Regions from separate parts of the Homo sapiens genome. Here regions 1 and 3 are each linked to region 2. Evidence: fine-mapped expression QTL. A gene starts in region 2. Each other region holds a variant in brackets. All regions are shown on one strand. Distances are from middle to middle.

Region 1 (8,380 bases), 250 kb before region 2:
ATGCCTGTAGTCCCAGCTACTTGGGAAGCTTCAACCTGGGAGGCGGAGTCTGCAGTGAGCTGAGATCGCGCTACTGCACTCCAGCCTGGTGACAGAGCCAGACTCTGTCTCAAAAAAAAAAAAAAAAGCTAGGCCTGGGGTGTGCACCTGTAGTCTCAGCTATAGGCTGAGGTGGGCGGATCACTTCAGTCCAGGAGGTCGAGGCTACAGTGAGCTATGATCATGCCACTGCACTCCAGCGTGCATGACAGTGAGACCCTGTCTCAAAAGAAAAAAGACTGCAAGGCTCAAGGTCACCCCAGACTTCAGACTTGGGTCTCTTGCTAACAGTAGAAGTTCCCAAGTAATTTGGAAGATACAGTGAGTAGGTTTGTAGTGAAAAAGTACAAGTCCCAAGTACAATATTCAGCCATGGGAGGAGGGCACCTTTTCCTCTTAATATTTCTCCTCCCTCAAGACTTCACATCTGAAGTGGTTGTGGCTCTCACCTGGGAAGGAAAAAGGGCACCCACAGAGTAGCTGGCCCCTCCTCTTTCTTTTGTCCTACCCACCATCCTCCCTGTGGAGAGCTTCACGTGGAAAAAGCTGGATTCTGACCTGGGTGTGGAAAGTACCGTGGGTCTTCTGCCCTCCTAAAGTTTACTGCCCTGAGATCTTACCAGGTTTAGAGATAAACTCTCTCTGAATAGCTGGAGGAGAAAGGCTCACACCTGGCAGGGACTTGAGAAATGAGCCTTAGAACTTGATGCTTCTCGGCCGGGTGCGGTGGCTCACGCCTGTAATCCCAGCACTTTGGGAGGCCAAGGCGGGCGGATCACGAGGTCAGGAGATCGAGACCATCCTGGCTAACACGGTGAAACCCCGTCTCTACTAAAAATACAAAAAATCAGCCGGGCGAGGTGGCAGGCGCCTGTAGTCCCAGCTACGCGGGAGGCTGAGGCAGGAGAATGGCGTGAACCCAGGAGTCGGAGCTTGCAGTGAGCCAAGATCGCACCACTGCACTCCAGCCTGGGCTACAGAGTGAGACTCCGTCTAAAAACAAACAAACAAAAAAAAAGAACTTGATGCTTCTGAACTCAACGATACTTTCTAGTTACAGCCAGGCTTCCCACTCTGTAGGCCTCTCGAAGGAACCTGGCACCTGGTCAGCCCTTAATGAATATTTATTCAAATTTATTAATTTGATTTGATTTGAACTGAGGGTTGAGTTCTGAATTTGGATCGCAGCTCATTCATCAATTTACTGTGTCCCTGCTAACATCCTCAAACTAGGATTTAGACTTATGATCTGGCTGAGGCCCAAGAGGATCTCCCTTTCTGATCAAGCTCACCACTTCCTGTGCTGCCACAAAGACCATTGCTCCCAGACCATCTTCTCATGGCGGAATGGATGAGGACCATAGTGCAGGCCTCTGCTCTTTCATTGTAAATTTACTTGTGGTGACCTCAGAACACAAGGTCAGCTCTCTGTCTCTCTGCATAGACTTGAATGCCAACCCAGTGTGTGCACCTGGAAAAACAAAGGTGGACATGCTCCTGAAGGGCCTGCCCTCTGCCCAGCCCACAGCCGTGCTCAGAATCCACTGTTTCTTATAAATCTGATGTGTATTTTGGCTTTTGCTCTGTGTGCTAATCTCTTGTTGCTTTGTCAATGATGATTTACCTGTCTCCACAATTGTTTTCTTCCACCTTCCTTTTGAAAGCGGAGATTGGGGATTATGACTCAGGGAAACACCCTGAAGGCTACAGCTCCAAGTTCCAGTTTTTCCCTAAACATTCAGAGAAGCTGGAAAGGAAAATTGCTGAGATTCACAAGACGGAACTGAGGTACGTGGCACTTAATCAGGCCCAGAACATTGTGGCTTCTCCACAGCCTGAGCACGCAGGCTCCACGCCGTGTCCTCTGTTCTCGCAGACTGTTTACTGACACAGAGTGATGCTCCCCAGCCTTCCTGACCGCGGATGTACCATTGTCAGTGATACACTGACAGCACAAGTCACAGCCACAAGCCCTGTAGGCTCCCTCTCCAAGAAAAGCGATTTAGCCTGAAGCTTAAAGACAAGGGAGAAGTTGTGTTATAGGGGAAACAGAGAGGGATTGGCCTTTGAAAGGCATCTGCCTCACTATGATATTTAATGAAGATACAGAGGAAAGCATGAACTGGGGAAAAGGAAAAGATAAAGGAAATTGCATAAGATAAAAAAGATGAAAGAAAAAGGCCAGGCGCGGTGGCTTACGGCTGTAATCCCAGCACTTTGGGAGGTCGAGGCAGGTGGATCACGTGAGGCCAGGAGTTCAAGACCAGCCTGGCCAACATGGTGAAAACCCATCTCTACTAAAAATACAAAAATTAGCCAGGCATGATGGCAGGTGCCTGTAATCCCAACTACTCCGGAGGCTGAGGCGGGAGAATCGCTTGAACCCAGGAGGCAGAGGTTGCAGTGAGCTGAGGTTGCGCCATTGCACTCTAGCCTGGGTGACAGAGCGAGACTCCATCTCAAAAAAAAAAAAAAAAAAAGGAGAGGTTGAGTGAGGATGTGAAAAAGGGCAGGCTTCTGCTCTTAGTCTGTGACAGTGTGACAGGTGGCTTCTCAGTGGAGGATGGAGTGCGCAGGGCTGATTCATAAATGCTGAGGGTGCCTTGGGAGCACTCTGGTTCAGAAGTATGTCCTCAGCCCCGCCTGACTCAGGCCCCCCCCATACCCTACCTGGAGTCCCCGACTTTGCACAGAGAGAAGTGGAGGAGACGTGGCTTCAAGTTTGGAGCCTCATCTTTCTCAGCTTCTCTTACTTTGCCCAGAATATGCTGAATACCATAAAACAGCATTAATGCAGCTTTTCACCCACATGAAGTAGGATTTTCTACAAAGCCTGATTTTAAAAAGCAACAATAGGGTGTTTGGGCTCCATTTGGTTACGGCACAGATTCCCCAAACTGACAAACTATGAGGAAAAAGGATATAGAATGCAGTGTTGGCCAAGCGCAGTGGCTCACACCTGTAATCCCAGCACTTTGGGAGGCGGAGGAGGGCAGATCACCTGAGGTCAGAAGTTCGAGACCAGCCTGGGCAACATGGCGAAAACCCTGTCTCTACTAAAAATGAAAGTAAATAAATAAAAAAGCCAGATGTGGTGGCACACGCTTGTATCCCAGCTACTCAGGAGTCTGAGGCATGAGAATTACTTGAACCTGGGAGGTGGAGGTTGCAGTGAGCTGGAATTGCACCACTCCATGCCAGCCTGGGCCACAGAGCGAGACCCTGTCTCAAAAAATTAAAAATAAAAAAAAGTTATGTTGTCATTATAATACATTACAGCTTTAAAAAAATATTTTAAAAGGTTTGTGTATCTACTGTTCCGAGGAAAGACTATGCCTGGCAACAGGGAGCAGAGCTGGATATTTCTAATGCTAATACTAAGCTTCAACTTGTTCCTTCCCCGACCACAGGCCCCCCAGAAACCCTTCACTCAATGATTTTACCAACAAATATAACCCAAAGCCTCCTTAGCCTTTGTAAACAGACCCCTCTGCCCATGCCTTGTGGCAGGAGGGGTTCCTGACCCTCCCAGC[G/C]GAATGGCGACACCGAACAAATGGAATCTTAGATGCTTCCCGCCCCTCTCCCTCGGTGTGCCTTCCCAGGTGCAGGACCCCATGGCTCCTCAAGTCACTCTGTTAGGGAATAGCGACCCCTTGTGGTAAAAATCAGAATAAACACGGGCCTGTGGTGTTGGGGGCAGGGGCCTCATGGTTCCTTCAAAGAGATCAGGGATGTGCTGGAACTGCCTGGAGGGCTTTAGGAGACATCAGAATAGTAGGGACAGCCCTCCAGAAACCTAGTTCAAAGCAGGGGATCCCCCAGGAAATGATGCCCGCTTTGAGGACCCTGGAGGTTTGGGCCAACTCCAAGGGTAAATGGAGCCCACAGGGCCCACTCCCCCTGCAGACAGAGGACACTCCCTGGAAAGGGAAGCTGTGCTCTAGCCAGCCCTTTGCTTGCCACACAGATATTTTCCTAACTTACCTTCCCTGTGCCTCAGGTACACTAGTGGATGCAGAAGTCTTTATTCACAGCAATACCCCCTTCCACAGGTACTTTTTCCATAGGTCCTGCCTCGTCTTCATAATGTAAAAATACATCCATGCTTCCTTTATGCAACTGTGATATGGGCTTTTGAGAGCACAGACTGTATACTGTGTTTCTTCATATATTTTCCAGCAAGTAGCACAGAGGCTGGCACATAAAGGTGCTGCCTGACTAATGCCTCTCCAGAGGGACACTAGGGGGAATCTGGCCTGGGGTCAGCTTATCTTCCTGCCTGGCCATATCACCTGAGGCAAATGATAAGCTTAGAAACGAGCAACGTGCAGTCCTGTCCACCAGCCATCAGAGATGTTGACTTCACAAGCTGCCCACCCCTCCTCACTGAAGCCAAACCTGTATCTGTAGAAGTATATCTGCTTTGCAGGGCTCTGGACCCAGGCAAGAGCCTGATGGTTATTCTGCCACTGGGTCTGCAATGAGCCCATCAACACACCTGCTAAAGAGGCAGTGGGAAGGGGTGATGCCAAAGGCCCCTTCAGATGGCCTGGAGCCGGAGCTGATCTCTGCCTTTTTCAGCATCTTTCATTTTCCTGGTCATCACCCTATGGACAGACAGCTGTTGTGGAGCATGGGAGCTCAGCACTGTCTCCTGCCTCTCCTCACCCTAATTTCCTGTGTTTCCTTTTGGCAAAGGAAGAGGGCTGGGTGGCACCAGCAAGCTATATGAGCCCCTTCTTTATATTTCAGTCTAGAACAGATCACATATGAGAAGCCTATGACCTGCTTCCAGCCTACAGATGTATTTTGTTTTACCCCATAGTATTTTAAATTGTGAAATACCACATAAAAATCAGTATCTCTGACTTTTCTTTTAAAATCACAATATCTAGCTAAGCCTTGCATTCTTTTTTTTTTTTTTTTGAGACAGGGTCTCATTCTGTCACTCAGGGTGGAGTGTAGGGCTGTGACCATAGCTCACTGAAACCTCGCACTCCTGGGCTCAAGCAATCCTCCCACCTCCCACCTCAGCCTCCCAAGTAGTGGGCCCTGCATTCTCAGTGATGGGAATCTCAGAGTTAAGATGGTGCTGCCACAGTCCCCACCACTCCCCATTGTTTACACTCAGCCCAAGTAATTCATTATGTAGCCTGCCTCACTCTGAAAACGTTTGAAGACAGTCAGAGACTCTAGCAGGAGTCTCGAAGTTGGTCCTAGAACCAAGCAGGGAGCACACCCTAGACAAACTGAGATGTGTGGCTCATCCTAAGCACATCTTCATAGAGAGTTTACCTCAGGGGAACCTGTGGGAACAAGACACCTTGAAATCATCTCATCTTCTTTATTCCAGTGGTCAAACACCAGCAACATCAGAGCTGAACTTCTTAAGAAAAGCACAGACATTGGAAACATATGGAGTGGATCCTCACCCATGTAAGGTAAGACCCCCTGGTTGGAGACTGCATGACCTTTCCTCCTCTAGAAGGCATCAGGAGCAAGAGCCCCCATGCCTGCGCTCAGAGGCCCCCTTCAACGTTTACATGGCTGGCACTTTCAGTGAGATATCAGAGAAAATGCCTGCTTTGAAAACTCCTCTGGATCACATGCTACATAATTTTGTGGTGCCACATCAATGTCAGAGGAACCGAGGCAAAGTCAATCTAAATAACAAATCCAAAGCTAGGGCCCCGCAATGGGTAATTTGGTAGAAATGAAGAGAGGAGGGATATGGAAGGCCCCCCACAGAGAACGATCAGAGGCGGCTCAGTGCCTGCCCACCCTTTCCTGACCTGTAATCTAGTTTCTTTCCGAGAGTGGGTTTTATTGACTGCAGTGGCATAAGTCACTGCACGGAACTGCAGTGGAGTCACATTTAATGCCATTATGCGCCTGTGAGGGATAGACGAGAACCAGCCGGGGAGGCTGCCCAGAGAAAACCTCTGTAATTACTCATGCACATCTGGCATTTTGGAGATGAGCGGGGGCAGCCAGTCACTGCCGAGGCCTGTGCAGACCCATGGCCCCTTCCAGTCTCTCTCTGTGGCTGTGGCCCTTCACGTTACCTCCTGTCCCTGTTGCTTTGACACTCCTGGTCTCTACCTCAGTTTCTCCACATTTCTGCCTCTCTCTTTCCATTACTGGAGAGGGTCCAGTATCACCAGTAAAACCAACTGGCAAGCTGATCTGAAGGAAGCAGTATCAGCCAGGAACAGGAAGACATCAACCTTTTCTTCCTAACTGGAGAGGGGATACTAAGCTTCAAGCAAAAATTAAAAGAATAGTATATTAGTTCCTAGGGTTTCTGTAACAAGTATCACAGACTGGGTGGCTTAAAGAACAGAAGTCTATTGTCTCACAGTTCTGGAGGCTGGAGATCTGAGATAAGGTGTCAGCAGGGTTGGTTCTTCCTGTGGGCTTTGAGAGAAGGATCCTTTCCAGGCCCCTCTCCTTGGCCTGTGGATGGCTGTCATCTGCCTGTGTCTTCACGCTTTCTTCCCTCTGTACATGTCTCTGTCCAGATTTCTCCAAAGACACCAGTCATATTGGATTAGGGCCCATCCTAATGACCTCAGTTTAACTTAATTACCTCTGTAAAGATCCTGTCTTCAAAGAAGGTCACATTCTGAGGTACTGAGGGTTACAATGTCAACATATGAATTTTTGAAGACACAGTGTATAGCGCATAACAAATAGGAATGCCGGGCGCAGTGGCTCACACCTGTTATCCCAGCACTTTGGGAGGCCAAGGTGGGCGGATCACAAGGTCAGGAGTTCAAGACCATCCTGGACAACATGATGAAACCCTGTCTCTACTAAAAATATAAAAAGCTAGCCAGACATGGTGACACATGACTGTAATCCCAGCTACTCAAGAGGCTGAGGCAGGAGAATCGCATGAACTCGGGAAGTGGAGGTTGCAGTGAGCTGAGATCATGCCATTGCACTCCAGCCTGGGTGACAGAGCGAGACTCTGTCTCAAAAAAAAAAAAAAAACCAGGAATGAATGAGCACAGTGACATAGGGACAAAGCAGTGTCCTTTGGTCCCTTGGTGAGAAGATGGTGATTTATTCTTGCCTAGGAGTTATGAACCTTGAGAACATCCTGATATTCAGAAACCCTGGTCATCTTCCCTACCCCACAGTTCCCTATCCACTAGCACAGCCTGCTGCAAAGTAACCCCTGTGTTCTTGGGGCCACACTGTCAGAAAACACATTCATGCCTGTTATACCAGAGAATTGACATTTGGATATTTACACATTAGCAAAACTTCCAAACAATGCCCTCTGTGTAACAGATGCAGTTTAAACCCCTCCATAAATTGCTCCAATACTGTTAGCAGGGCACCCACACAGGAGTGAAGAGAGCTTTGGATAAGCTGGCCCTGGGCTCCGGTTCCCATCCCCTGTTTACTGGGGCCTTTGGGAGCTTCTCTGAGCCTCACTTGAAAGTACACAGTCTGTGTTCAATAACTGCTCCCTGAACTGCTGAGTCACTCTAGGACCTTAAAGACGGCTGCCTGAAGATATGTTCATCAGAAAGGGCCAGGTTACCTCTGCGTTTGACCCCAAACCTGCCCAGTCCCCTTGAGGCCACACATAGCACCCACCTCTTCAGAGACGGGTCCCTGAGCAGAGTTGAAAAGACACAGAGATGGGCAGACAGTGAGCCCGAGCACTACACTGACTAGAGCGGGGAAAGGGATTCTCCACCGTTGCCCACGGGATTCTGGAAGCTGTAGTGGCAGCCAGCCTGGTTTCCAACCCAAATACACATGCACCCCAGGACTGTGAGGCTCCTGTCTCAGCCTCGTCTTGGGTGAGTTTGTCCATCATTGGACGCAGAGAGGCTGAAGAGGCTGCAGGGAGGAACCAGCATTCATACCAGGCACTGTTGCCACCCAGTCACTTATGTCATGCCATCTCAATCCCATAGCATCAACTCCTGGAAGGAAAGAGGGAGGGAGGGAAGAAGAGATGTTTGTGGTATGCCTCCCATGGCGGCCTCAGTGGAGTCTTTTCACATTATGTTCTCATTTAATCCTCACACCAGCCCTGGGAGGTAGATGTTATTCTCCCTGTTTTATAGATAAGAAGACTGGCATTCCAGGAGGCCAAAATTCACAAGCCCTCAGCGGTAGAGCAAGAATTTGAACTCAAGTCACTACCCGTTGTTATGTACCCTATGGAAGAACAGAAACCCCCCAGGAGACTTCTTTTGGGGGAGTGCTCAGGTCCCTTGTTCCTGAGCCCTGTGCCTCTTCCTCACCCAGGGCCATGTCAGGGCCCTATTGCAGACCCCACACATAGCCCCTCAGCTCCTCTCATTAGGCTCTGGCC
Region 2 (8,306 bases):
TCTGCATCTATTGAGATAATCATGTGGTTTTTGTCTTTGGTTCTGTTTATATGCTGGATTACATTTATTGATTTGCGTATATTGAACCAGCCTTGCATCCCAGGGATGAAGCCCACTTGATCATGGTGGATAAGCTTTTTGATGTGCTGCTGGATTCGGTTTGCCAGTATTTTATTGAGGATTTTTGCATCAATGTTCATCAAGGATATTGGTCTAAAATTCTCTTTTTTGGTTGTGTTTCTGCCCGGCTTTGGTATCAGGATGATGCTGGCCTCATAAAATGAGTTAGGAAGGATTCCCTCTTTTTCTATTGATTGGAATAGTTTCAGAAGGAATGGTACCAGTTCCTCCTTGTACCTCTGGTAGAATTTGGCTGTGAATCCATCTGGTCCTGGACTCTTTTTCGTTGGTAAGCTATTGATTATTGCCACAATTTCAGCTCCTGTTATTGGTCTATTCAGAGATTCAACTTCTTCCTGGTTTAGTCTTGGGAGAGTGTATGTGTCGAGGAATTTATCCATTTCTTCTAGATTTTCTGGTTTATTTGCGTAGACGTGTTTGTAGTATTCTCTGATGGTAGTTTGTATTTCTGTGGGATTGGTGGTGATATCCCTTTTATCATTTTTTATTGCATCTATTTGATTCTTCTCTCTTTTTTTCTTTATTAGTCTTGCTAGCGGTCTATCAATTTTGTTGATCCTTTCAAAAAACCAGCTCCTGGATTCGTTAATTTTTTGAAGGGTTTTTTGTGTCTCTATTTCCTTCAGTTCTGCTCTGATTTTAGTTATTTCTTGCCTTCTGCTAGCTTTTGAATGTGTTTGCTTTTGCTTTTCTAGTTCTTTTAATTGTGATGTTAGGGTGTCAATTTTGGATCTTTCCTGCTTTCTCTTGTGGGCATTTAGTGCTATAAATTTCCCTCTACACACTGCTTTGAATGTGTCCCAGAGATTCTGGTATGTTGTGTCTTTGTTCTCGTTGGTTTCAAAGAACATCTTTATTTCTGCCTTCATTTCGTTATGTACCCAGTAGTCATTCAGGAGCAGGTTGTTCAGTTTCCATGTAGTTGAGCGGTTTTGAGTGAGATTCTTAATCCTGAGTTCTAGTTTGATTGCACTGTGGTCTGAGAGATAGTTTGTTATAATTTCTGTTCTTTTACATTTGCTGAGGAGAGCTTTACTTCCAACTATGTGGCCAATTTTGGAATAGGTGTGGTGTGGTGCTGAAAAAAACGTATATTCTGTTGATTTGGGGTGGAGAGTTCTGTAGATGTCTATTAGGTCCGCTTGGTGGAGAGCTGAGTTCAATTCCTGGGTATTCTTGTTGACTTTCTGTCTCGTTGATCTGTCTAATGTTGACAGTGGGGTGTTAAAGTCTCCCATTATTAATGTGTGGGAGTCTAAGTCTCTTTGTAGGTCACTCAGGACTTGCTTTATGAATCTGGGTGCTCCTGTATTGGGTGCATATATATTTAGGATAGTTAGCTCTTCTTGTTGAATTGATCAACAAGGCCTTAATTACTTAATTGATCATTAAGTAATGGCCTTCGTCTCTTTTGATCTTTGTTGGTTTAAAGTCTGTTTTATCAGAGACTAGGATTGCAACCCCTGCCTTTTTTTGTTTTCCATTTGCTTGGTAGATCTTCCTCCATCCTTTTATTTTGAGCCTATGTGTGTCTCTGCACGTGAGATGGGTTTCCTGAATACAGCACACTGATGGGTCTTGACTCTTTATCCAATTTGCCAGTCTGTGTCTTTTAATTGGAGCATTTAGTCCATTTACATTTAAAGTTAATATTGTTATGTGTGAATTTGATCCTGTCATTATGATGTTAGCTGGTTATTTTGCTCATTAGTTGATGCAGTTTCTTCCTAGTCTCGATGGTCTTTACATTTTGGCATGATTTTGCAGCGGCTGGTACCGTTTGTTCCTGTCCATGTTTAGTGCTTCCTTCAGGAGCTCTTTTAGGGCAGGCCTGGTGGTGACAAAATCTCTCAGCATTTGCTTGTCTGTAAAGTATTTTATTTCTCCTTCACTTATGAAGCTTAATTTGGCTGGATATGAAATTCTGGGTTGAAAATTCTTTTCTTTAAGAATGTTGAATATTGGCCCCCACTCTCTTCTGGCTTGTAGAGTTTATGCCGAGAGATCTGCTGTTAGCCTGATGGGCTTCCCTTTCAGGGTAACCCACCTTTCTCTCTGGCTGCCCTTAACATTTTTTCCTTCATTTCAACTTTGGTGAATCTGACAATTATGTGTCTTGGTGTTGCTCTTCTCGAGGAGTATCTTTGTGGCATTCTCTGTATTTCCTGAATCTGAATGTTGGCCTGCCTTGCTAGATTGGGGAAGTTCTCCTGGATAATATCCTGTAGAGTGTTTTCCAACTTGGTTCCATTCTCCCCATCACTTTCAGGTACACCAGTCAGACGTAGATTTGGTCTTTTCACATAGTCCCATATTTCTTGGAGGCTTTGCTCATTTCTTTTTATTCTTTTTTCTCTAAACTTCCCTTCTCGCTTCATTTCATTCATTTCATCTTCCATCGCTGATACCCTTTCTTCCAGTTGATTGCATCGGCTCCTGAGGCTTCTGCATTCTTCACGTAGTTCTTGAGCCTTGGCTTTCAGCTCCATCAGCTCCTTTAAGCACTTCTCTGTATTGGTTATTGTAGTTATACATTCTTCTAAATTTTTTTCAAAGTTTTCAACTTCTTTGCCTTTGGTTTGAATGTCCTCCCGTAGCTCAGAGTAATTTGATCGTCTGAAGCCTTCTTCTCTCAGCTCGTCAAAGTCATTCTCCGTCCAGCTTTGTTCCGTTGCTGGTGAGGAACTGTGTTCCTTTGGAGGAGGAGAGGTGCTCTGCTTTTTAGAGTTTGCAGTTTTTCTGCTCTGTTTTTTCCCCATCTTTGTGGTTCTATCTACTTTTGGTTTTCGATGATGGTGATGTACAGATGGGTTTTTGGTGTGGACGTCCTTTCTGTTTGTTAGTTTTCCTTCTAACAGACAGGACCCTCAGCTGCAGGTCTGTTGGAGTACCTGGCCGTGTGAGGTGTCAGTCTGCCCCTGCTGGGGGTTGCCTCCCAGTTAGGCTGCTTGGGGGTCAGGGGTCAGGGACCCACTTGAGGAGGCAGTCTGGCCGTTCTCAGATCTCCAGCTGCGTGCTAGGAGAACCACTGCTCTCTTCAAAGCTGTCAGACAGGGACATTTAAGTCTGCAGAGGTTACTGCTGTCTTTTTGTTTGTCTGTGCCCTGCCCCCAGAGGTGGAGCCTACAGAGGCAGGCAGGCCTCCTTGAGCTGTGGTGGGCTCCACCCAGTTCGAGCTTCCCGGCTGCTTTGTTTACCTAAGCAAGCCTGGGCAATGGCAGGCACCCCTCCCCCAGCCTCGCTGCCGCCTTGCAGTTTGATCTCAGACTGCTGTGCTAGCAATCAGCGAGACTCCGTGGGTGTAGGACCCTCCGAGCCAGGTGCGGGATATAATCTCCTGGTGCGCTGTTTTTTAAGCCCGTCGGAAAAGCGAAGTTTTCGGGTGGGAGTGACCCGATTTTCCAGGTGCTGTCTGTCACCACTTTCTTTGACTAGGAAAGGGAACTCCCTGACCCCTTGCGCTTCCCGAGTGAGGCAATGCCTCGCCCTGCTTCGGCTCGTGCACAGTGCGCGCACCCACTGACCTGCGCCCACTGTCTGGCACTCCCTATTGAGATGAACCGGGTACCTCAGATGGAAATGCAGAAATCACCCGTCTTCTGCGTCACTCATGCTGGGAGCTGTCGACTGGAGCTGTTCCTATTCGGAGTATTGACATTTTAAAGAAATCCTAATTAAAATGGACAATATGGACAGATTATGATGGAATTATTCTTGTTCAGGTACTCTTTTCGTTTGGACAGAGGTATCTGCCGGTACTGAGATGTAAGTGATCAGCTGAAGGGAGAAACTGTACACCATGTGACGGACAAATTGCCTGCCTCAAGAAAGCACTTAGGACCATTCTGCAGCCACTCAGTGACCTTGGCTAGAAACCAATGGCTGTGCGGCGTGAGGTAAGATGAAAGGAAATACCCTAGGGATCCAGGACTTCTGCATTTGGTGAAACGTCCGCTTCCACTACAAGGCTTTGGGATGTCTAGTCTGTAGACTGGAGTAACATTAATACTGACTCATGCAGAAACAATATAGCTACATATTGAACTGGGGGAAGGGGTGGCAAAACCCTCTGCAAATAGGAAGTGCCACAAGAGCACCGAGATAAGGATGAGGCCCTGCGTGAGCGCAGCCTTCGGGTTTTCCTTGGGCCGATCAGCACCGACTCCACCGCTCTCGGCGAGGCACCTCCAGCTCCCGGGAATGAGAAATGTGCCCGCCACAGCAGGGGCCCACAGGAATGAAGGGCGCCGGCGCTGCGTAGGCCCAACAGTTCCCCGCGCCCTCGCCCCCGGCCCCGGCCCAGCCCGGCCCTTCTTCCCCCGCCTTGGCAGAGTGGCGTCATCAGGGGGCGAAAAACCCGACGAGCATGAGGCCCGCAGATCCCGTGTAGGAGATGCGACTCTCGAAGTTGTCGTCCGTGAGTTCGGAGGCAGCGGCGAGGCGGGCCGCGGCAAGAAGCAGCGCCACACCCGGGAACAGCGCTAGGCGGCGGAGGCGCATGGCGGCGAGGTGGGGTGGGGACGGCCGGAAGGGTCGCGGCTCGGCTGGGACTGCGGAGGTCGGGCGCGCGACCACAAACCGGCTGCCTGCGCTGGCGCGTCTGGCCCAGGGGACCTGCAGCCGGAGGTCCCAACCCCCAAACCCGGCTCGGGCCGCTGTGTGGCAGCCGCTGATTGGCTGCGCGTCGCCTTCGTCCGGCGGGCGGGACCAGCTGGTTACCGCTGAGTGGCCGGAGAGCGGGGCGGGGCGGGGCCTAGGCGGCGAGTGGCTGGGCGAGCGTTGCTCCGCATGGTCCTGGGCTGTGGGTAGGGGCTAGGGCCGGGTCCCGGGGTGAGCCGAAACCTGGGGGTCGAGCGGGGCGGGGAATGGGGCGCAGTGAGGCTGGGAGCCGGCCCTGAGCTCGTCTTGCATAGGGGTAGCCAGGCTCGGGGCACCTGAGCTGGAGGCGGAAGCGTGAAATAAGGACTGAGTGGGCAAAGAGAACCTGGGCTGAGGTGAGGCCCAGAAGCGAGAATGGAGGAGAGAAGGAGCTAGCCCCCGAAGGAGTGTTGGAGTGGACACACTTGGGACGGGACCCATTTTCAAAATGTCAGGCTTTGGCATTTTGTCCAATTTCTCTGCACTTGGTTTCTCTTGCGTGAGCAGGCCAAGACCTCCCCCAACTCCACCTCATTGCCCGATTGTCTCAGGCACAGGTGGGACCCAGATTCTTTGTCCAGCCCCGGGCCCCTGCCCTTGTGGCTGCTCCTTTTTCTTGCGGTGTTTTTGTTTGTTTTGTTTTGTTTTTAATGAGTTTTAATTAGAAATGCCATCACAAAGTGAAGATGCCTGGCCGCTTGGTCGACTGTGCAATGTCTTTACCACTTAGCCCCTTTTGTTTCAAAACACCCTGAGTCCTAGTAGAATGTTTGTTCTTCCCAACTGCTCCTAGTTCGTAGATGTGGGTACATTAAGGAATCTTAAGGGTAAAGAGGGTGGGGAGGAGGGGACAGAAAACCTGTAATCCTTGGTGCAGCTCCAAGAATGAAATGACACTTGATGCTTACATTTTCTTAGCAGACATGGCCGCTTACCAACAAGAAGAGCAGATGCAGCTTCCCCGAGCTGATGCCATTCGTTCACGTCTCATCGATACTTTCTCTCTCATTGAGCATTTGCAAGGCTTGAGCCAAGCTGTGCCGCGGCACACTATCAGGGAGTTACTTGGTCAGCAGCCTATTTCTTCACTAATTTAAATTTAAGACTCCTATCCACATCCTCTACATTTAAGAGTGGAAAATTCTGGGGAGGTTTAGTTGCTGGTTTACCAAACTTGATAAATCAAGGGCTTGTAAATAAAACTGAAGAGATAGAATCCACGTCTTTCACTTTTAGGCCTAGGATAGCCACTAGCCATGGATGATTGGGAAGAGTTTCTGTCAAAGACTCTTAAAACTTTGAGAGTGAGCCTGCTGCTTTTGTGGGCATGGACAGTGTTGGTCATAAGCAATACATTTGCTCTCACTCCAAACAGAATTCTTAGTTGCTGTGAGAAGAGAAGGACTAGCAGTAAGGCATTAGGGGAACCCATTACCTGACCAGTATCCCTGCCCCCAACCCTACCTGGTCTATTTTGTTTGTATTTATCCACTATCCCTTTTTAATTTTTGTTGTAGATCCTTCCCGCCAGAAGAAACTTGTATTGGGAGATCAACACCAGCTAGTGCGTTTCTCTATAAAGCCTCAGCGTATAGAACAGATTTCACATGCCCAGAGGCTGTTGAGCAGGCTTCATGTGCGCTGCAGTCAGAGGCCACCTCTTTCTTTGTGGGCCGGATGGGTCCTTGAGTGTATCCTTTCATGTCACTCATTTTTATCCTGGCTGTTGATCATCTGCCTAATGACTTATTTTTTGCTCCCCATACTCCACTGTCTCATTTTCACTGCTTATGTTATTGCTCTTATTATTTCAGCTGCATAAATCAGAAAGAACTCCACTCTGTACATTTCCTTAAGAGACAACAGGTCCTCTCTTCAAAAACTTCATCATCTTCCTGGTCTTTTTGAATACGATCATATTGATGGTTGAAATAGGTGAGAACTGACCTTGTATGAAAGAGGAAGTGAGGCCGGGCACGCCGGCTCACACGTGTAATCCTAGCACTTTGGGAGGCCGGGGCGTGTGGATTGCCGGAGCTCAGGAGTTGGAGACCAGCCTGGGCAACATGGTGAAACCCTGTCTCTACTAAAAAATACAAAAAATTAGCCGGGCTTGGTAGCACGCGCTTGTAGTCCCAGCTACTTGGGAGGCTGAGGCAGGAGAATCGCTTAAACCCAGGAGGCGTAGGTTTCAGTGAGCCGAGATTGTGCCACTGCATTTCAGCCTGGGCGACAGAGTACAACTCTGTCTCAAAAAAAAAAAAAAGAAAAAGAAAAAGAGGAAGTGGGTAGGAGTAATTTTTTTTTCTAAATTGATCATTTTACATTTTTGAATGTCATTTGAAATGTGACATTTATATTAAGGACAATTATATTAAGCCTCCTGGAGTAGAATTTATGCAACTGCTAAAATCTAGAAATATTCGCTGGGCACGGTAGCTCACACCTGTAATCTCAGCACTTTGGGAGGCCGAGGTGGTTGAATCACTTGAGGTCAGGAATTCAAGACCAGCCTAGCCAACATGTTGAAACCCCATCTGTACTAAAAATAGAAAAAATTAGCTGGGCGTGGTGGTGGGCACCTGTAATCCCAGCTACTCAGTAGGCTGAGGCAGGAGGACGCTTGATCGTGGGAAGCCGAGGTTGCAGTGAGCTGAAATCACGCCACTGCACCCCATCTCAAAAAAAAAAGAAATATTAATATTTGGAGGCTCTCAAGAGTATACTAGATACAGAGCATCTAGACACATAAAACTAGGTGTAATATGTAGCAATATAACAAATCCACAAGGAACTGAACTTGGGAAGACCAGTTTTATTTCTGTTGTCAGTTTAGCCTGACATTTGTTTGAATTAACCTTTTCTGTTAAAGATATTGGTGCCTATCAGTGAACGATCTAACATTTACATTTTTACAAGTATATTTAGAAAGATTAAGTATAAATAAGAAAGCTCACAAAGTATGGAAAGGTAGGTACAACTAAGATATTAGCTGAGCCAAAAAAATTACTTAAAAAGGAAATGATTCTGAAACCAATAATAAATTATATGAAATACATTCAAAACATAAGTATGTCTGCAAAATCAGTGAGCTCATTTGTTGATAATCTCAAACTGCTCAGAAATGATGAAAGGACAGTAGAACTTGTTTCATTCTCACTGTTGTGGGGAAGTCTCCCACTTTATGTTTTAGAGACAGAGTCTCACTTTGTTGCTTAGGCTGGAGTGCAGTGGTGTGATCATGGCTTGTTGCAGCCTCGACCTCCAGGGCTCAGTTGATCCTCCCACCTCGGCCTCCTGAGTAGCTTGGACTACAGGTGCATGCCCACTACACCAGGCTAATTATGTTGATTTTATTTTTGTAGAGACAGGGTCTCACTATGTTGCCCAGGCTGGTCTTGAACTCCTGGGCTCAAAAGATCCTCATGCCTTAGCCTCCCAAAGTGCTGGGATTACAGGCGTGAGTTACCACGTCCAGCCTAGGAGGAATTTTTAAGAGAAGGGAGTAGTTATGAAGCTCTTGGCTG
Region 3 (8,380 bases), 940 kb after region 2:
TCGGCCATAAAAACGAATGAAGCTCTCATATATTTTACAACATGAAGGACCCCTTGTTGTGGGTTAAATCACTGTCTCCACTGAAAATATGTTGAAGTATTTTCCCAGTATCTGTGAATTTGACCTAATTTGAAAATAAGGTCCCTGCAGATGTAACCAAGTTAATATAAGATAGTACTGGATTAGAGTGGTCCCTAAATCCAATGACTAATGTCCTTATAAGAAGGCTATGTGGAGCTGGGTGCAGTGGCTCACGCCTGTAATCCCAGCACTTTGGGAGGCTGAAGCGAGTGGATCACCTGAGGTCAGGAGTTGGAGACCAGCCTGGCCAACATGGTGAAACCCCGTCTCTACTAAAAATACAAAAAATTAGCGGGGCGTGGTGGCGGATGCCTGTAATCCCAGCTACCTGGGAGGCTGAGGCAGGAGAATTGCTTGAACCCAGGAGGCAGAGGTTGCAGTGAGCCGAGATCGTGCCACTGCACTCCAGCCTGGGTAACAGAGCAAGACTCTGTCTCCAAAAAAAAAAAAAAAAAGTTATGTGGTAGCTTACGATGGTAATTTCAGCACTTTGAGAGGCTGAGGCGGGAGGATCACTTGAGGTCAGGTGTTGCAGGTAAGAATGAGCTGTGATTGCACCACAGCAGTCCAGTCCAGGTGACAGAGACCCTGTCTCTTAAAAAAAAGTTAAATTAAAAAAAAAAAAGAAGGCTATGTGAAAACACGGGGACAAACAGACAGGGAGACAGACACACACACACAGAGAGAGAGAGAGAGAGAGAGAGCGCACAAGTGAGAGCAAGAATGTCATGTGAAGACAGAGATAGAAATGGGAGTGAATGCCAAGGATTGCTGGTAACCCATCAGAAGCCTGGAAAGAGGCTTGGAGCAGATCCTTCTCCCAGGAGCTTTCTGAGGGAGTATGGTGCTGCTAACACCAACATTTTGGACTTCTAGCCTACAGAACTATGAGAGCATAAATGTCTGTGGTTTGAAGCCACTCTGTGAGTGGTAATTTGTTACAGCAATTCTAAGAAACTAACACAATCCTGAAAACATTCCGCTAGGAGAAAGAAGCCATCAAAAAGGATCATATATTGTGTAATTCCATTTATATGAAATGTCCAGAATAGGCAAATCCATGGGGACAGAAAGTAGATTCGTGGTTGCCAAGGGCTGGGGAATGGTGAATTTAGGGAATAACTAGGGGGGTAATGAAAATGTCCTAAAATTGGTGATGGATACACAACTCTATGAATATACTAAAGCCAATGGATTATAACAATAAAAAAATCAATTAAAGAAGTGCTCAAGGGCCAGGCACGGTGGCTCACGTCCGTATTCCAACACTTTGGGAGGCTCAGGCGGGCAGATCCCTTGAGCCCAGGAGTTCAACACCAGCCTGGGCAACATGGTAAAACCCCATCTCTAGAAAACAAAAATACAAAAGTACCCGGGCATGGTGGTGCACACCTGTACTCCAGGTACTCAGGAGGCTGAGGTGGGAGGATCACCGGCGCCCAGGGAGGTCGAGGCTGCAGTGAGCCATGATTGTGTCACTGCACTCTAGCCTGGGCAACACGGCAAGACCCTGTCTCAAAAAAAAAAAAAAAAAAAAGACAGGGCATGTCAAAAGGACACAAGACCCAAGCTGAAAGAACTCCAAATAATTAAAGCTGGAACAAGTTGAACAATGAAATTAATAATGACAGTACTGTATTGAATTACGCCCCAAAGAATATGATTCCAAACTGAAAAAAATTAAATAGTTGAATAAATTAAGTGGCGGAAGAAGGGACTGCACTTTCTTAGAGAAAAGTTCCAATTAATAAATGTAGAATAAATGAGGGAAATACAAAATTCCCTAAAATATCACAGTAATAATTTTTACAGGTAAGATACACCAGTAGACACTAAAATCAGTGGATGAAAGTTTGAGGAAAAACAGGATTTTCCATCATCTCCAATATTTTTTTGGGGGGCTGCTGTGGGGCATGGAGTCTTGCTCTGTCACCCAGGCTGGAGTGCAGTGGCGCCATCTCAGCTCAATGCAAACCCCGCCTCCCGGGTTCAAACTATTCTCCTGTCTCAGCCTTCTGTGTAGCTGGGTCTACAGGCGTGTGCCACCATGCCTGGCTAATTTTTGTATTTTTAGTGGAGACGGGGTTTCACCATGCTGACCAGGCTGTTCCTGAACTCCTGACCTCGTGATCCGCCCGCCTCTGCCTCCCAAAGTGCTGGGATTACAGGCGTGAGCCACCTTGCCCAGCTAGTCTCCAAGATTTTTTGAGACAGGGTCTCCCTCTGTCCAAGGCCAATGATGTAATCATGGCTCACTGCAGCCTCCATTCCCCTCCAGGCTCAAGCGATCCTCCCACCTCAGCCTCCCAAGTAGCTGGGACCACAGGCATGCACCACCAACATAGCTTTTGTGTGTGTGTGTGTAGAGATGGCGTATCACTATGTTGCCTAGGCTGATCTCAAAATACTGGACTCAAGTGATCCTCCTGCCTCAGCTTTCCAAAGCACTGGGATTACAGGCGTCAGCCACCACATTCAGCCATGTTCATTAATCATAAAGGACAATATAGCAACATTCAGTGGAGAGACCCCCAACCACCACCTTAACATCAAAGTTCACATCACCAGAAACAGGACATGTCGGTATCCGGTAACCTCTGATACAATGCACCGAGAATAAGGTATTGCATGAGACATACTTATACTATAAAACTATTTGTTGTCTAAAATTTGAATTTAACTAGCATCCTGTATTTTTCTTTGCCTAATCTGTCAACCTTCAGAAGGGCAAATCACTTCTATGGTATTTTTTTTGCCAAAAACGCATAACTTCAATCCAACCATAAGAAAACCACAGACACGATCCTTTTGTAGTTCGTAAGCATGACGATCGGGTTTTCACATACATGTCTCAGAAGTGCCTCTCTCAAACCTTGTTACGTCAGCACATTACCTGTCTTACATGAAAAAAAAAAGAAAAAAAGCAAGAAACAGCAGATAAATACATTCCAAAAAATTACTAACCACGAAGCAAGAAAAGACTGAGAAACTATCACAATAGGAAAAAGAAACTGATAACAACATACACAGAAATGAATAAGTTAGAATCAAAAGGGGCTCCAGGAGAGATGAAATATCTAAACCAAAGGCTGGCAAAACTTTTTCTGTGGGGAGCTAGATACTGAATATTTAAGGCTTTGTGGGCCATTTGAGTAGCTGCAGCTACTCAACTCTCTGCCACTGTAGTGGGAACACAACCATAGAAGACATGTACATGAATGGGCATGACTGTATTCCGGTAAAACTTTATTTACAAAAACAGGAAGCAGGCCAGATCTGGCCAAAGGGCCATAGTTTGCTAACCCCTGATCTTAACAGACCATCTTCCATTGAAGAAGTTTTTCAAATAACTAATCCCCTACTGAAACACCAAGCCTTGTCAATTTAAAAGGATTATTATATCAAACTTTAAAAGATGATTCAAAAGAAATTTTTTTTTTTTGAAACAGGGTCTTGCTGTGTCACCCAGGCTGGAGTGCAGCAGCATGGTCACAGCTCACCACAGCCTCGACTTCCCAGGCTCAAGCAATCCTCCCACCACAGCCTCCTGAGTAGCTAGGACTACAGGTGTGCAGCACCACCCTGGCTTTTTTTTTTTTTTCTATGTTGCCCTGTCTGGACTCAAACTCCTGGGCTCAAGCAATCCTCCTGCCTCAGCCTCCCAAAGTGCTGAGATTACAGATGTGAGCCACCGTGTCTGGCTCTCAAATTTTTTTACTTTTCATCCCCATTTCACACTCCCATCCAAATCATTCTGATGTGCTTAGAGTGTATCTTTTTGTTTGTATGTGTTCTTGC[A/G]AAAAGTGATTGTTGTGTATGTTGTATTTATATACTGTATATGTTGTTTAATTCACAAATAGTAATATATCTCATCTTATGGGCGGATCATGAGGTCAGGAGTTCAAGACCAGCCTGGTCAACATAGTAAAAGTCCGTCTCCACTAAAAATACAAAAAAATAAGCTGGGCATGGTGGCAGGCACCTGTAGTCCCAGCTACTGGGGAGGCTGAGGCAGGAGAATTTCTTGAGCCCAGGAGTCGGAGGCTGGAGTGAGCCGAGATCGTGCCACTGCACTCCAGCCTTGGCGACACAGCAAGACTCTGTCTCAAAAAAAAAAAAAAAAAAAGTTTTTCACTCAGTATTCTGCCTAGGTGTTTAATCTGCTGATTTCGAGTCTTGCATAGTATTAATATTTCATGTGTGCAACTACCACATTTTACCTATCCACTCTTCTCAGTGATGGATTTGCGAATGTCCTCCAACTCATTGCCACTTCAAATAATGCCTTAATAAACAATTCCTTACATGTTCTCTCATAACCTATGCAAACATTGCTGAGTCATAGGAACCTGTAATGGTTCCAATATCCTCAAAGTCCTGCCAAAATCTGGCATCATCTGGCTTCCTAAATTTTGCCAACTTAATAAGTATAAAGTTTTTATTACTTTTTTAACTATTCATAAACCTTGAAAAAGAAAACTACCACCTTTCTTTCCTATTAAAGGAGTATAAAGTAATAACAAAACCTAAGGAATATATTGTGAAAGCAAAAACCACAGAAAAATTCAAATATGGATGCAAAATTCTAAAATATAACTGGACTCCAACACATTAAAAGAATAGTATATCAGAATCATAAATATATATTATAGGATTTATTCCAGGAATGCAAGAATAGTTCAATATTAGCCCCAAAATAGATAGATGGATGGATGAATGAATGAAATCATCTCCAAAGACTCTGAAATACCCATTCTGGATAAGAATATGCTATAAAGTAGGAATAGTTGGATATTTCCTTAGTATTGCAAAAATATATCTATCTCAGCTCAAAAGCTATAAAAAAGCCAGGTGTGGTGGCTCACGCCTGTAATCTCAGCATTTTGGGAGGCCGAGATGGGTGGATCACCTGAGGTCAGGGGTTCGAGACGAGCCTGGCCAGCATGGTGAAACCCAATCTCTACTAAAAATACAAAAATTAGCCAGGCATGGTGGCAGGCGCCTGTAATCCCAGCTCTTCGGGAGGCTGAGGCAGGAGAATCGCTTAAAGATTGAGGCGAAGGTTGCAGTGAGCCGAGATCATGCCACTGCACTCCAGCCTGGGCAACAGAGCAAGACACTGTCTCAAAAAAAAAAAAAAATTAAGATAGGTACATGTATTAGCAGCTACTAAATTAGTAGTGCAGGTCTAGAGAATCAACCAAAAAAATAGATGCAAAATTAATTCACAGAAATCTATAGCTTTAATACACACAAAATAATCAGAAGATATAAAGGAACGAAAAAACCTATTTACAAGAGTAACAAAAAACTTAAAATACTTAGAAATAAATCTGACAAGAAATGTGAGAGACATATGAAGAAAACTTTAAAAACATAAAAAGAAAGCTTGAACCTAGTACATTTTTGGTTAGAAAGTTCTATAGCATAAGACGTGGTTTCTCCCTAAGTCAATCCACATGATCCTATTAAAAATAGTAACAAGTTCTTGCAATTGAACTAGACAAGGTGATCCTAAATTTCATATAAAAAATAAACAACAGGACGGGTGCGGTGGCTCACGCCTGTAATCCCAGCACTTTGGGAGGCTGAGGTAGGCAGATCACTCGAGGTTAGGAGTTTGAGAAAAGCCTGGCCAACATGGTGAAACCCCATCTCTACTAAAAACACAAAAATTAGCCAGGCGTGGGGGCAGGCGCCTGTAATCCCAGCTACTCAGCAGGCTGAGACAAGAGAATCGCTTGAACCCAGGAGGTGGAGGTTGCAGTAAGCTGAGATCACGCCCCTGCACTCCAGCCCGAGTGAGAGAGTGAGACTCCATCTCAAAAAATAAAAAATAAACAAACAAACAACAGGCTGGGTGCAGTAGCTCATGCCTGTAATCCCAGCACTTTGTTCAGCTGAGGTGGGCAAATCACCTGAGGTCAAGAGTTTGAGACCAGCCTAGCCAACACTGAAAACCCCATCTCTATTAAAAATACAAGAAAAATTAGCCAGGCATGGAGGGTGATGCATGCCTGTAGTCCCAGGTACTCGGAGTGCTGAGCCAGGAAGAATCGCTTGAACCTGGGAGGCGGAGGTTGCAGTGAGTCAAGATGGCGCCACAGCACTCCAGTCTGAGTGACAGAGCAAGACTCCATCTCAAAAAAATAAACAAACAACAGATCAGTAACACAGAGGCACAACAAGATGGCAGAATAGGACCCGTCAGTGATAGTTCCCCACAGAAACATCAATTTGAACAACAATCCACAAAAGAAAATATCTTCGCTAGAGCTAGGAAAACCAGTTGATAGATAAAAGTACTAGATTTTACAAGGAGAAGAAGATGCATTAAAGATAATAGGAAGGACAGTCTCATATTATCTGTACCAACCCTTCCCCAACCCTAGGTAGTGATGAGAGACACCGCCCACATGGCAGAAGGAGAGGTTAGTGGACATGGGACTTTGCCTTAGAGCCCAGTACTAAGTCTGCCACAGTAATACACAGAACCAGAAAAAACCCCACAGCCTAATTCCAGGCCTGTGCCCACGGACAAAGATTGTGGACCCACACTAAGCACCAGAAAGGAATTCCCCACCCCATCAGGATGAATGGGATTCTCACATCACTGGGCCCCAAATAAATTTCAGCATGGTAGCAGCCTGGGCCTTGGGCATGACCCATTTCCACCCTGGTCCAAGAGGCCATAGGCTTCAGGTGTAGCCCTGCATAGCATCAGCTGTGGCAGCCACAGGACTGCCCACATCACCTTTCCCTCCAACTGTAGGCAACATGGTACAGAGAAAGACACCATCTACTTTAGGGAAGGAGACCGAATTATGCATGAAACTTTTCCTTGGAACCCAGTACCAAGCCCACAACAACAAAACCAGCACCTGGTTCAGGGCCCTGGCCAGCATTACCACACGAGGTGGGGAACTCTCCCTGGGTCTTACTCAGGTCCATCGGGGCCAGGGACATTGGAGTCTGTAACAGAGTCCCAGCTACATAGGCTTACAGTGCCCTCTAGCGCTAAGATGGCTACAGTGACCACAGGCTTAGGGAACTCAACAGTCAGGCTCCTTTGAATTCCTGGAAGGCTCTCTGAAAGACAGGTACAAACAAGGCCAGATTGCAAAAATTGGAATATATATCAATTTCTTCAATGCCCAGATATTGACACACATTGGAAAGCATCAAGAACATTAAGGGAACTATGACCTCACCAAACCAACTAAATAAGGTGCCAGTGATCCATCCTGAAGAGATTGAGAAGTATAATCTAAGACAGGGAATTCAAAATAGTTGTTTTGAGGTAGCCCAATAAACTTCAAGAAAACACAGAGAAATAATTCAGAAATCTATGAGAGAAACTTTACAAAGAGATTAAAATAATCTTGGCCAGGCGTGGTAGCTCATGCCTGTAATCCCAGCACTTTGGGAGGCCGAGGCAGGCAGATCACCTGAGGTCAGGAGTTCGAGACCAGCCTGACCAACATGGTAAAACCCCATCTCTACTAAAAATACAAAAAAAATTAGCCGGGCGCTGTGTCAGGTGCCTGTAATCCCAGCTACTCGGGAGGCTGAGGCAGGAGAATCGCTTGAACCCGGGAGGCGGAGGTTGCCGTGAGCCAAGATCACGCCACTGCACTCCAGCCTGGGCAACAAGAGTGAAACTCCATCTCAAAATAAATAAATAAGTAAATAATAATAATAATCTTTTAAAAATCAAACAGAAATCCTGGAGGTGAAATACACTGAACAAACAAAAATGCATTAAAATGCTGTCTTGACAGCAGAAATTATAAAGCAGAAGAATAAATCTGTGAGCTCAAAGACAGGATATTTGAAAATACAGAGGAGGAAAGAAAAAAAGAATGAAAAAGAACAAAAGAAAGCTTAAAGAATCTGTGTGATAGTGTCAAAAGAACAAATGTGGCCAGGCGCGGTGGCCCACGCCTGTAATCCTAGTATTTTGGGAGGCCGAGGTGGGTGGATCATGAGGTCAGGAGTTCAAGACCAGCGTGACCAACATGGTGAAACCCTGTCTCTACTAAAAATACAAAAAAAAAAAAAAAATCAGCCAGGCATGGTGGCTGGCGCCTATAATCTCAGCTACTTGGGAGGCTGAGGCAGGAGAATTGCTTGAACCCTGGAGGCGGAGGCTGCAGTGGGCAGGGATTGTGCCACTGCACTCCAGCCTGGGTGAACAGTGCAAGACTCCATCTAAAAAAAAAAAAAACAAACAAAACAAAAAAAACAAATGTACGAGTCACTGGCATTCAAGAGGGAGTGCAGAATGAGAACGGAGGGG

Direction of the effects. Alleles are on the strand shown, and positions count from the first base shown. SD is a standard deviation of normalised expression in the study named. Not every link is listed here.
In carriers of allele A in region 3, the expression in uterus of the gene that starts at base 4,920 in region 2 tends to be higher than with G alone (large effect, 1.2 SD a copy in GTEx).

What was found. PIP is the estimated chance that this variant, and not a neighbour inherited with it, causes the effect.
Region 1: its variant is fine-mapped to the expression of CATSPER2 in esophagus muscle (GTEx, PIP above 0.99). The same link has a PIP of 0.9 or more in ovary and thyroid.
Region 3: its variant is fine-mapped to the expression of CATSPER2 in uterus (GTEx, PIP above 0.99).

What each region holds. Positions count from the first base shown.
Region 1 is chr15:43,899,275-43,907,654 of GRCh38, reverse strand. FRMD5 (FERM domain containing 5) reads left to right here. Exons shown (of 14, transcript NM_032892.5): 6 at 1,704-1,827; 7 at 5,393-5,480. Among named protein-coding and RNA genes, the nearest start is that of WDR76, 76 kb to the right of the region's middle. The variant G/C (reference allele first, on the strand shown) is at 3,573.
Region 2 is chr15:43,645,458-43,653,763 of GRCh38, reverse strand. CATSPER2 (cation channel sperm associated 2) reads left to right here and starts at 4,920. Exons shown (of 13, transcript NM_172095.4): 1 at 4,920-5,135; 2 at 5,701-5,847; 3 at 6,297-6,470; 4 at 6,646-6,714. The coding sequence starts at 5,703. It also overlaps the pseudogene PPIP5K1P1-CATSPER2 and the pseudogene PDIA3P2.
Region 3 is chr15:42,703,296-42,711,675 of GRCh38, reverse strand. All of the region lies in intron 26 of STARD9 (StAR related lipid transfer domain containing 9), which reads right to left. LOC124903605 (small nucleolar RNA U13) reads left to right here and starts at 2,884; the gene lies at 2,884-2,984. The variant A/G (reference allele first, on the strand shown) is at 3,880.